Linked DNA regions of Homo sapiens: region 1 is linked to region 2. The links come from fine-mapping of genetic effects on gene expression. Tissue or cell type: lymphoblastoid cells. Region 2 holds a variant in brackets; the other region holds the start of a gene. All regions are shown on one strand. Distances are from middle to middle. Region 1 holds the start of ZNF329 (zinc finger protein 329). Region 2 overlaps LOC124904784 (a long non-coding RNA gene).

What was found. PIP is the estimated chance that this variant, and not a neighbour inherited with it, causes the effect. A credible set is the group of variants that fine-mapping cannot tell apart.
Region 1: ZNF329 starts here. The variant in region 2 is the best candidate, but not a certain one, in a credible set for the expression of ZNF329 in lymphoblastoid cells (TwinsUK, PIP 0.55).

The regions. Positions count from the first base shown.
Region 1 is chr19:58,148,142-58,152,410 of GRCh38, forward strand. ZNF329 (zinc finger protein 329) reads right to left here and starts at 2,648. Exons shown (of 4, transcript NM_024620.4): 1 at 2,611-2,648. RefSeq lists an enhancer at 2,725-2,784.
Region 2 is chr19:58,168,828-58,173,096 of GRCh38, forward strand. The region is part of intron 1 of LOC124904784 (a long non-coding RNA gene); the gene reads left to right. Among named protein-coding and RNA genes, the nearest start is that of ZNF274, 12 kb to the right of the region's middle. The variant C/CT (reference allele first, on the strand shown) is at 2,459.

The DNA.
Region 1 (4,269 bases), 21 kb before region 2:
TGGATTAAGGGCGGTGCAAGATGTGCTTTGTTAAACAGATGCTTGAAGGCAGCATGCTCCTTAAGAGTCATCACCACTCCCTAATCTCAAGTACCCAGGGACACAAACACTGCGCGGAAGGCCGCAGGGTCCTCTGCCTAGGAAAACCAGAGACCTTTGTTCACTTATTTATCTGCTGACCTCCCCTCCACTATTGTCCTATGACCCTGCCAAATCCCCCTCTGCGAGAAACACCCAAGAATGATCAATTAAAAAAAAAAAAAAAAAAAGAGAGGAAGGTAAAAAATTTCCCTGTTTCTTCTTTTCCAGGTTCAGATTGGCAGGAAAAAAAAATTACAAATAAAAAACAATTAGTTTTTTGAAAAAAAAAAAGTATACTTGGGTGTGATAATAACACTAGTTTTGTTTAAATGTTCAAATGTTCTTTTTGGCTGGGTGTGGTGGCTCACACCTGTAATCCCACCACTTTGGGAGGCCAAGGCAGGAGGACTGCTTAAGACCAGGAGTTCAAGAACAGTCTGGGCAACATAGTGAGATCTCATCTCTATAAAAAATACAAAATTAAAAAATAAGAACGTTACTTTTCTTATGAGATCCTGGCTGAAGTATTTCAGAGTGAGGTATGATATCTATAACATACTTCCAGTAACTCAGCCAAAAAAACTAAGTGTATGTAAATATATGTCTGTATCACACCTGCCTCTGCAACACCTGCTGTGTGTACAAGTGTGTGTAAAATATAAAAAGAAAACCCTATGTCAGAGGCGTTTGAACCAAAGCAAACCTCCATCTTAAATGGGGACTGGGTAAAATAAGGCTGAAACCTACTGGGCTGCATTTCCAGACAGTTAAGGCATTCTAGGTCATAGGATAACACAGGAGATTTGCACAAGATACAGGTCATAAAGACCTTGTTGATAAAACAGCTTGCAGTAAAGGTGGCTAAAACCCACCAAAACCAAGATGGCAACGAGAGTGACCTCTGGTCCTGCTCCCACTAGCACCATGACAGTTTACAAATGTCATGGAAACATCAGGAAGTTACCCTATATGGCCTAAAAATGGTAGGCATGAATAATCCACCCCTTGTTTAGCATATAATCAAGAAATAACCATAAAAATGGGCGACCAGCAGTTCTTGGGGCTGCTCTATCTATGGAGTAGCCATTTTTTTATTCCTTTACTTTCTTAATAAGCTTGCTTTCACTTTACTCTATGGACTCGCCCTGAATTTTCTTTCCCAAGATATAAGAACCCTCTGTTGGGTTATAGCTCGGGACCCCCTTTCTGGTAACACCTATGCATGTGTCTCAGGCAGGGAGAAGATAAAGATAAAGCTAATGTGGCAAAAAGTGTTAATAATTTTAGAATCTGGATGGTTTTAGAAGTGTTAAACTATTCCTGCAACTTCTATGCAAATGCGGAACTTTTCAAAATGAAAAGTTGGGTGAAGAGAGAGGTAAACAAGCAGTAGAATGGAGGAAAGTCACTTGCTGTGGGAAAAAAGAAAAAACAGACAAAAACTGGGTATTCAAAACGTACTTCAACAAGCCCAAGTTCCTATAGCCAAATTTTTTAACTTGGCAAAAAATAAAGGACCTTTTCAGGCTGATGGTAATTTTAATAAAGGTTTAGGTTGCATTTGTCAAAATTCATCAATGGTACAGGGAATATCTGTGCATTTCACTGAAAGTCAATTTTGGCTCAAAAAATTTAAAAAAGCACTACTGAACTCTAATTCATGGTAAGCATAGTGAGGTGTTTGAGGGAGAAGTGTTGTGATATCTGCAACTTACTTTGAAATGTTTCCAAAAATAGGTGGATTAATGAATGGCTGAAAGGATGGACAGAAGGAAAGATAAGGGATACAGTAAGTTCAGCAGACGTTAACCGGGTCGTTCACTGCACAAGTCTTTCAGCTTCTCTATCTAAACCAACATTTTATGTCATAAAATATTGAGACTGGAAGACTGCACAAAGGAAATATGCCACTAAACCAAGGGAAAAGACAGCAAAATGGTCACTAAACACGTGCAAAAATGCGGCCCTCACTGAGAATTGCAGTAAAACATGATTTTGCAAATATCAAATGGAAAAACACACAGGTGATCTAACACCTTCGAGACTCAAGGGGAAGCGGCTCAGCCCACTGGCTCACGGCCGCCAATTCAGCCGGAGGCCGACCCAAGCCTACACTGCCCCTCACACCTGACAGAAAAGCTGCAGACTCGGGGGTTACCCCCGGAGACGGACCAGGACACCCAGCAGGCGTGGCAAAACAGTCTCTATGGGAGGGCGGGCTAGAGATGCGAGCGCGGAACTCACGGGTGACGCTAAGGAAAGAGCGGGGGCGTCCAGACCAGCCCCGGAGCGACCTCGTCCTCAGAGGAGTGACCCCAATCGCCACGGAGCGTCCCCACCCACCAGGAGAACTACGCCCCTGGCCAGACCCTCGCCCTAGCGGGCCCGACATGCCCACCACCCAGGTGAAACCCACCCGCGGACGCGCCCCTCGCCGCCCCACAAGGACCCGGCGGACCTCCACCCGCCAAGACTTCCCTCCGCAGGAAACGGAGGCAGCGCAGGGCTCAGGGATGCGTCGGCACTTACGGTTGGCGGCCGGCGGCAGCCATGTTCCGGGCGATTGCGCTTGCGCGGCTGCCGGGACAAGGATGTGCGCGTGCGCGGAGTCCCCGAGCTTCCCCCGCCCAACGCTGGGGCGGCCGCGGGTACCGGGTTATTCATTACCCTGGCGTGGACTTGCCTCGGGGCGGACGCGCAGGCATTTACTTTCTCCTATGGTCTCCTCTGATTTTTAACCCGATGCTATCATTCTTTTGTTATAGAGCCTTCCTTTTATTTACTGCATAATTTCCTAAAATATTTCTTTATCTATAATCTTTTTTTGAGATAATAATGTTAAAATTCAGAATAAGTACACTCATTATTCATTGGCAATATAATTATTTACTGGGTGCGTGGCTCACGCCTGTAATCCCAGCATTTTGGGAGGCCTAATTTGTTAAAATGACTAGATCTAAGAAATGTAAACAAAGCCAGTAACTTTCCTCTGTAGTAACAATAGCCGGTTGAAAATGAAAACTACACATTTTCATTCTTTCAGTGGTTCTCTTAAACTTTAGCATGGGGAAGCCTAAATATTTACTGACAGGGAAGAGAGAAACTGTGGTATGTGCAACGGAGCAATAGGGGGTGGTTAAAACAAACGGACTGGGCTCACCTAAGGTCAGGAGTTTGAGACCAGCCTGGCCAACATGGTGAAACCCCGTCTCCACTAAAAATACAAAAATTAGCTAGGCGTGGTGGCAGGCGCCTGTAATCCCAGCTCCTCGGGAGGCTGAGGCAAGAGAATCACTTGAACCTGGGAGGCGGAGGTTGCAGTGAGCTGAGATCGTACCATCACACTCCAGCCTGGGGGACAAGAGGGAGACTTCGTCTCAAAAAAAAAAAAAAAAAAAAGGACTAACTTATATACAAGATAGACAGTTCTCCAAAAACAGTTCGAAAAGTAAACTGTGCACTTATCCACATGATACAACTTACCTGGAAATAAAAGACACAAAATCTATATGTTATACAGAGATTGATACATAAGTAGTAAAGTAACAATAACATGGACCAGATAGATTGTCCAACCTCAAGAAAGTGGCAACTGAGGGGAAAGAGTTGGGGAGGAGACAAAGGAGACCTCAGTTACACCTGTGATGCTTGATAGGAAAAAACAAATCAAAACCTGAAAATCTGACTACATGTTAACACAGGTAAAATCTCGATGATACATGGGTGTCATCTTTATTATTTATAGATTATTCTATTACTCTCCGAACCTCTCCGCAGGTTGAAATACTTCACAATTTTGAAATGAAAATTAGAAAAAAAATTCTAAGCCATAATAGTGATTAAATTGTCACTCACAATAGTGATGGTTGGAGCAACTTGGAAATCAATTAGCAAAAGCAATAAAGGATCTTCATGAAGAAAATACAAAAACCTCATTAACAGACCTGAAGTTAAGTTCAGAACACACTGACATATTATTCCTGAATGGAAAGTATTTTTTTAATTTCTCCATGAAGGCCGTATCAGACCAGGCACAGTGGCTCATGCCTGTAATTCCAACTCTTTGGGAAGCCGGGCTGGGGGGATCACCTGAGGTCAGGAGTTCAAGATGAGCCTGGCCAACATGGTGAAACCCCATCTCTAAAAATATAAAAATTGGCTGGGCACAGTGGCTCATGCCTGCAATCC
Region 2 (4,269 bases):
TACTTGGGAGGCTAAGGCAGGAGAATCAGTTGATCCCGGGAGGTAGAGGTTGCAGTGAGCCAAGGTTGTGCCATTGCACTCCAGCCTGGGTGACAAGAGCAAAACTCCATCTCAAAAAAATAAAAAAAATGAGTTGTACGTATCTTCACATTTCTAAGGGCATGTCCAATGTCTTGGCAGGGTTAAAAAGACATCATAGTCTGGTGAAGTACCCATACTCCAAAACTAGTGCAAACTTCACAAGTTTCATTGCAAATCCCTTACAAAGAGCACAGGGTATGTATAAGCAGCATTGGTTTCTCTTCTGAAACCCTGGACACTAGAAGATAAGTGAAGATTCCAGAAACACAAAGACTCTGATTTCAGGATTTGATGCTCAGCAAATATATCATTCACACATATGAGGAGAGAGTAAGCATTTTCAGACCTGTTAGCATTCAAAATTTGTATTCTTTCTGGAAAAACTGCCCAAGAGAACATAATAGTAATTTCTTACAATGGAAGTATGAGCCATGTCCCCAAAAGACATCTAAAAGGACACTCATAGAAGCATTAGTCATAAGGGGCCAAAACTGGATACAGCCCAGCAGTCCATCAATAATAAAATGTATAAACAAAATGTGGTACATCCATAGTGGAATACTACTCAGCAATTTACCAAACATTAACTACTGATACATGCAGCAACTTGGATGAATCTCTAACACATTATGTTGACACAGAAAACCATAGACTATATGATTCCATTTATATGAAGTTTGAGGACAGAAAAAAAACTTATGATGATAATCAGGATAGTGGTTAACTCTGGGAGATATTAACCAGGAAGTGGTACAGGGTTTTGGAAATATATTTTCTGTTGACCTGTGTGATGGATTTTTATATATGGACATTATATATTTATATATTTAGACATATATAAAAAAACTCATCAAGTTGTGAAGTTGAGGACTTTATGCCTATATATATGTTTATGTGTATATATATGTTTAAAGCTTATATAGTTTATGTATATAAAGGTTACATATAAACTTTAATTTAATTAATTAATTTTTTGAGACAACAGTCTCACTCTGTTGCCCAGGCTGGAGTGCAGTTGTGTGATCTCTGCTCACTCCAGCCTCTGCCTCCTGGGTTTAAGTGATTCTCCTGCCTCAACCACCTGAGGAGCTGGGATTACAAGCAAGCACCACCACACCTGGCTAGTTTTTGTATTTTTAGTAGAGACAGAGTTTCACCATGTTGGCCAGGCTAGTCTTGAACTCCTGATCTCAAGTGATCCTAATGCCTTGACCTCCCAAAGTACTGGGATTACAGGTGTGAGCCACCGTGACTGGACTAAACTTTAATTTTAAAAGTTTTAAAACGGCCGGGCGTGGTGACTCGTGCTTGTAATCTCAGCACTTTGGGAGGCCGAGGTGGGCGGATCACGAAGTCAGGAGATCAAGACCATCCTGGCCAACATGGTGAAACCCCGTCTCTACTAAAAAAATACAAAAATTAGCCAGGTGAGACGGTGCACGCCTGTAGTCCCAGCTACTTGGGAGGCTGAGGCAGGAGAATTGCTTGAATCCAGGAGGTGGAGGTTGCAGTGAGTCGAGATTGCGCCACTGCACTCCAGCCTGGGCGACAGAGTGAGACTCTGTCTCAAAAATAAATAAAGAAAGAAATAAATAAAAGTTTTAAAACTATATGCAAGCTGGCCGGGCACAGTGGCTCACGCCTGTAATCCCAGCACTTTGGGAGTCCAAGGTGGGCGGATCGTGAGATCAAGAGATGGAGACCATCCTGACTAACATGGTGAAACCTCGTCTCTACTAAAAATACAAAAATCAGCTGGGCATGGAGGCGAGCATCTGAAGTCCCAGGTACTCGGGAGGCTAAGGCAGGAGAATCACTTGAACCCAGGAGGCAGAGGTTGCAGTGAACCGATATTGCGCCACTGCACTCCAGCCTGGCGACAGAGTGAGAGTCCATCTAAGGAAGGAAAGGAAAGGAGAGGAGACGGGAGGGGAGGGGAGAGAAGGGAAAGGAAAGGAAGAAGGGAAGAATAGAGGGAAGAGAGGAGGGAAGAGAGAAGGAGAGAAAGAAGGAAAGAGAGAAAGAAGGAAAGAAAGAAGGAAAGAAGACCTATATGCAAGCTGATGGGATGATGGGATCCAAAGGACTTATGCTGCCATTTTAAACAGTCTCCAAACAAAGACAAAACAAATGCCTCTGCCACTGCTGTGCTATGAGTCAGGATGCTTGCTGGGCTGGTAGCAGCTAACCCACGTCATCAGATAATGTTTACTCACATGCCTGGAGAGTTAGCCAGAATAGCTTCAGGATCAGTATGAGCCAGCAGCTCAACAATGTCTCCAAATACTCAATTTCCTTCCACCCTTCCCCTCAGTGGTCTGCAGTATTGATTATTCTTAAATTGGCTCCCACTGACAGCCTTATGGCTCAGCTTCTT[C/CT]TTTTTTTTTTTTTTTTTTTTTGGAATGAAGTTTCACTCTTGTTGCCCTGGCTGGAGTACAATGTCGCGATCTCGGCTCACTGCAACCTCTGCCTCCCGGGTTCAAGCGATTCTCCTGTCTCAGCCTCCCGAGTAGCTGGGATTACAGGCGCCCACCACCACGCCCGGCTAATTTTTGTATATTTAGTAGAGACGGGGGTTTCACCATGTTGACTAGGCTGGTCTTGAACTTCTGACCTTAGGTGATCCACCCGCCTCAGCCTCCCAAAGTGCTGGGATTACAGGTGTGAGCCACCACGCCCGGCCAATATGGCTCAACTTCTTTCAAGAGACTGGGCTTTTTTTTTCTGTATTAGTTTCCTATCACCACTGTAACAAATTACTACAAACTCAGTGTCTTAAAACAAGAGATAAGAGAAATATTAAAGTAAGACAAATAGATTCTCTCATTTCTGGAGGCCGGAAGCATGAAATCCATACCTGGGCCAAATTCAAGCCTTGGAGGCTCCAGGAGAGAATTCATTCCTTGCCTCTTCCAGCTTATGGTGGCTGCTGGCTTTTTTTTTTTTTTTTTTGAGACGGAGCCTTACTCTGTTGCCCAGGCTGGAGTGCAGTGGTGTGATCTTGGCTCACTGTAATCTCCCCCTCCCGGGTTCAAGCGATTCTCCTGCCTTAGCCTCCCGACTAGCTGGCATGACATGCGCATGTCACCACATCCAGGTAATTTTTGTATTTTTATTTTTAATTTAATTTTATTATTTTTTTATTTTTTGAGACAGAGTCTTGCTCTATCACCCAGGCTGGAGTGCAGTAGCACGTCTCAGCTCACTACAACCTCTGCCTCCTGAGTTCAAGCCAGTCTCCTGCCTCAGCCTCCCCAGTAACTGGGGTTACAGGCGTGCAACACCACGTCCAGTTAATTTTTAAATTTTTAGTAGAGACAGGGTTTCATCATATTGGCCAGGCTGGTCTCAAACTCCTGACCTCGTGATCCACCCCCCCTTGGCCTCCCAAAGTGTTGGGATTACAAGCGTGAGGTACCCCGCCCGGCCTATTTTTATTTTATTTTTTTATTTTTTTGAGAGGGAGTCTTACTCTGTCACCCAGGCTGGAGTGCAGTGGTGTGATTTTGGCTCACTGCAACCTCCGCCTCCCAGGTTCAAGCAATTCCCTGCCTCAGCCTCCTGAGTAGCTGGGATTACAGGCGCCTGCCACCATGCCTGGCTAACTTTTGTATTTTTAGTAGAGACGGGTTTTCACTATCTTGGCCAGGCTAGTCTTGAACTTCTGACCTTGTGATCCACCCGCCTCAGCCTCCCAAAGTGCTGGGATTACAGGCATGAGCCACTGTGCCCAGCCAACTTTTGTATTTTTAGTAGAGACGGGGTTTCATCATGTTGGCCAGGCTGGTCTCAAACTCCTGGCTTCAGGTGATCTGCCTGCCTCGGCCTCCCAAAGTGCTGGGATTACAAGCATGAGCCACTGCGCCCGGCCTGCTGGCATGTTTTGACTTGTGACTGCACAGCTCCAGTCTCTGCCTCCACGGTCACATCACCTTCTCCTTTTCTGCCTATGTGTGGTCACATCTGTCCCTGCCTCCCTCTTGTAAAGATACATGTGATTACATGCACAATCCAGGATCATCTCCCCTCTCAAGATCTTTAAATACATATGCAGCCCCTGTCTCTACATAACGCAACATTCATAGGTTCCAAGAATTCAGGCCTGACATCTTTGGGGGACATTTTTCAGCCAAACACACTCTCCTAACTTTTAATCAAAGTCCTGGGCTTCACTCTCCGTCCATGTTC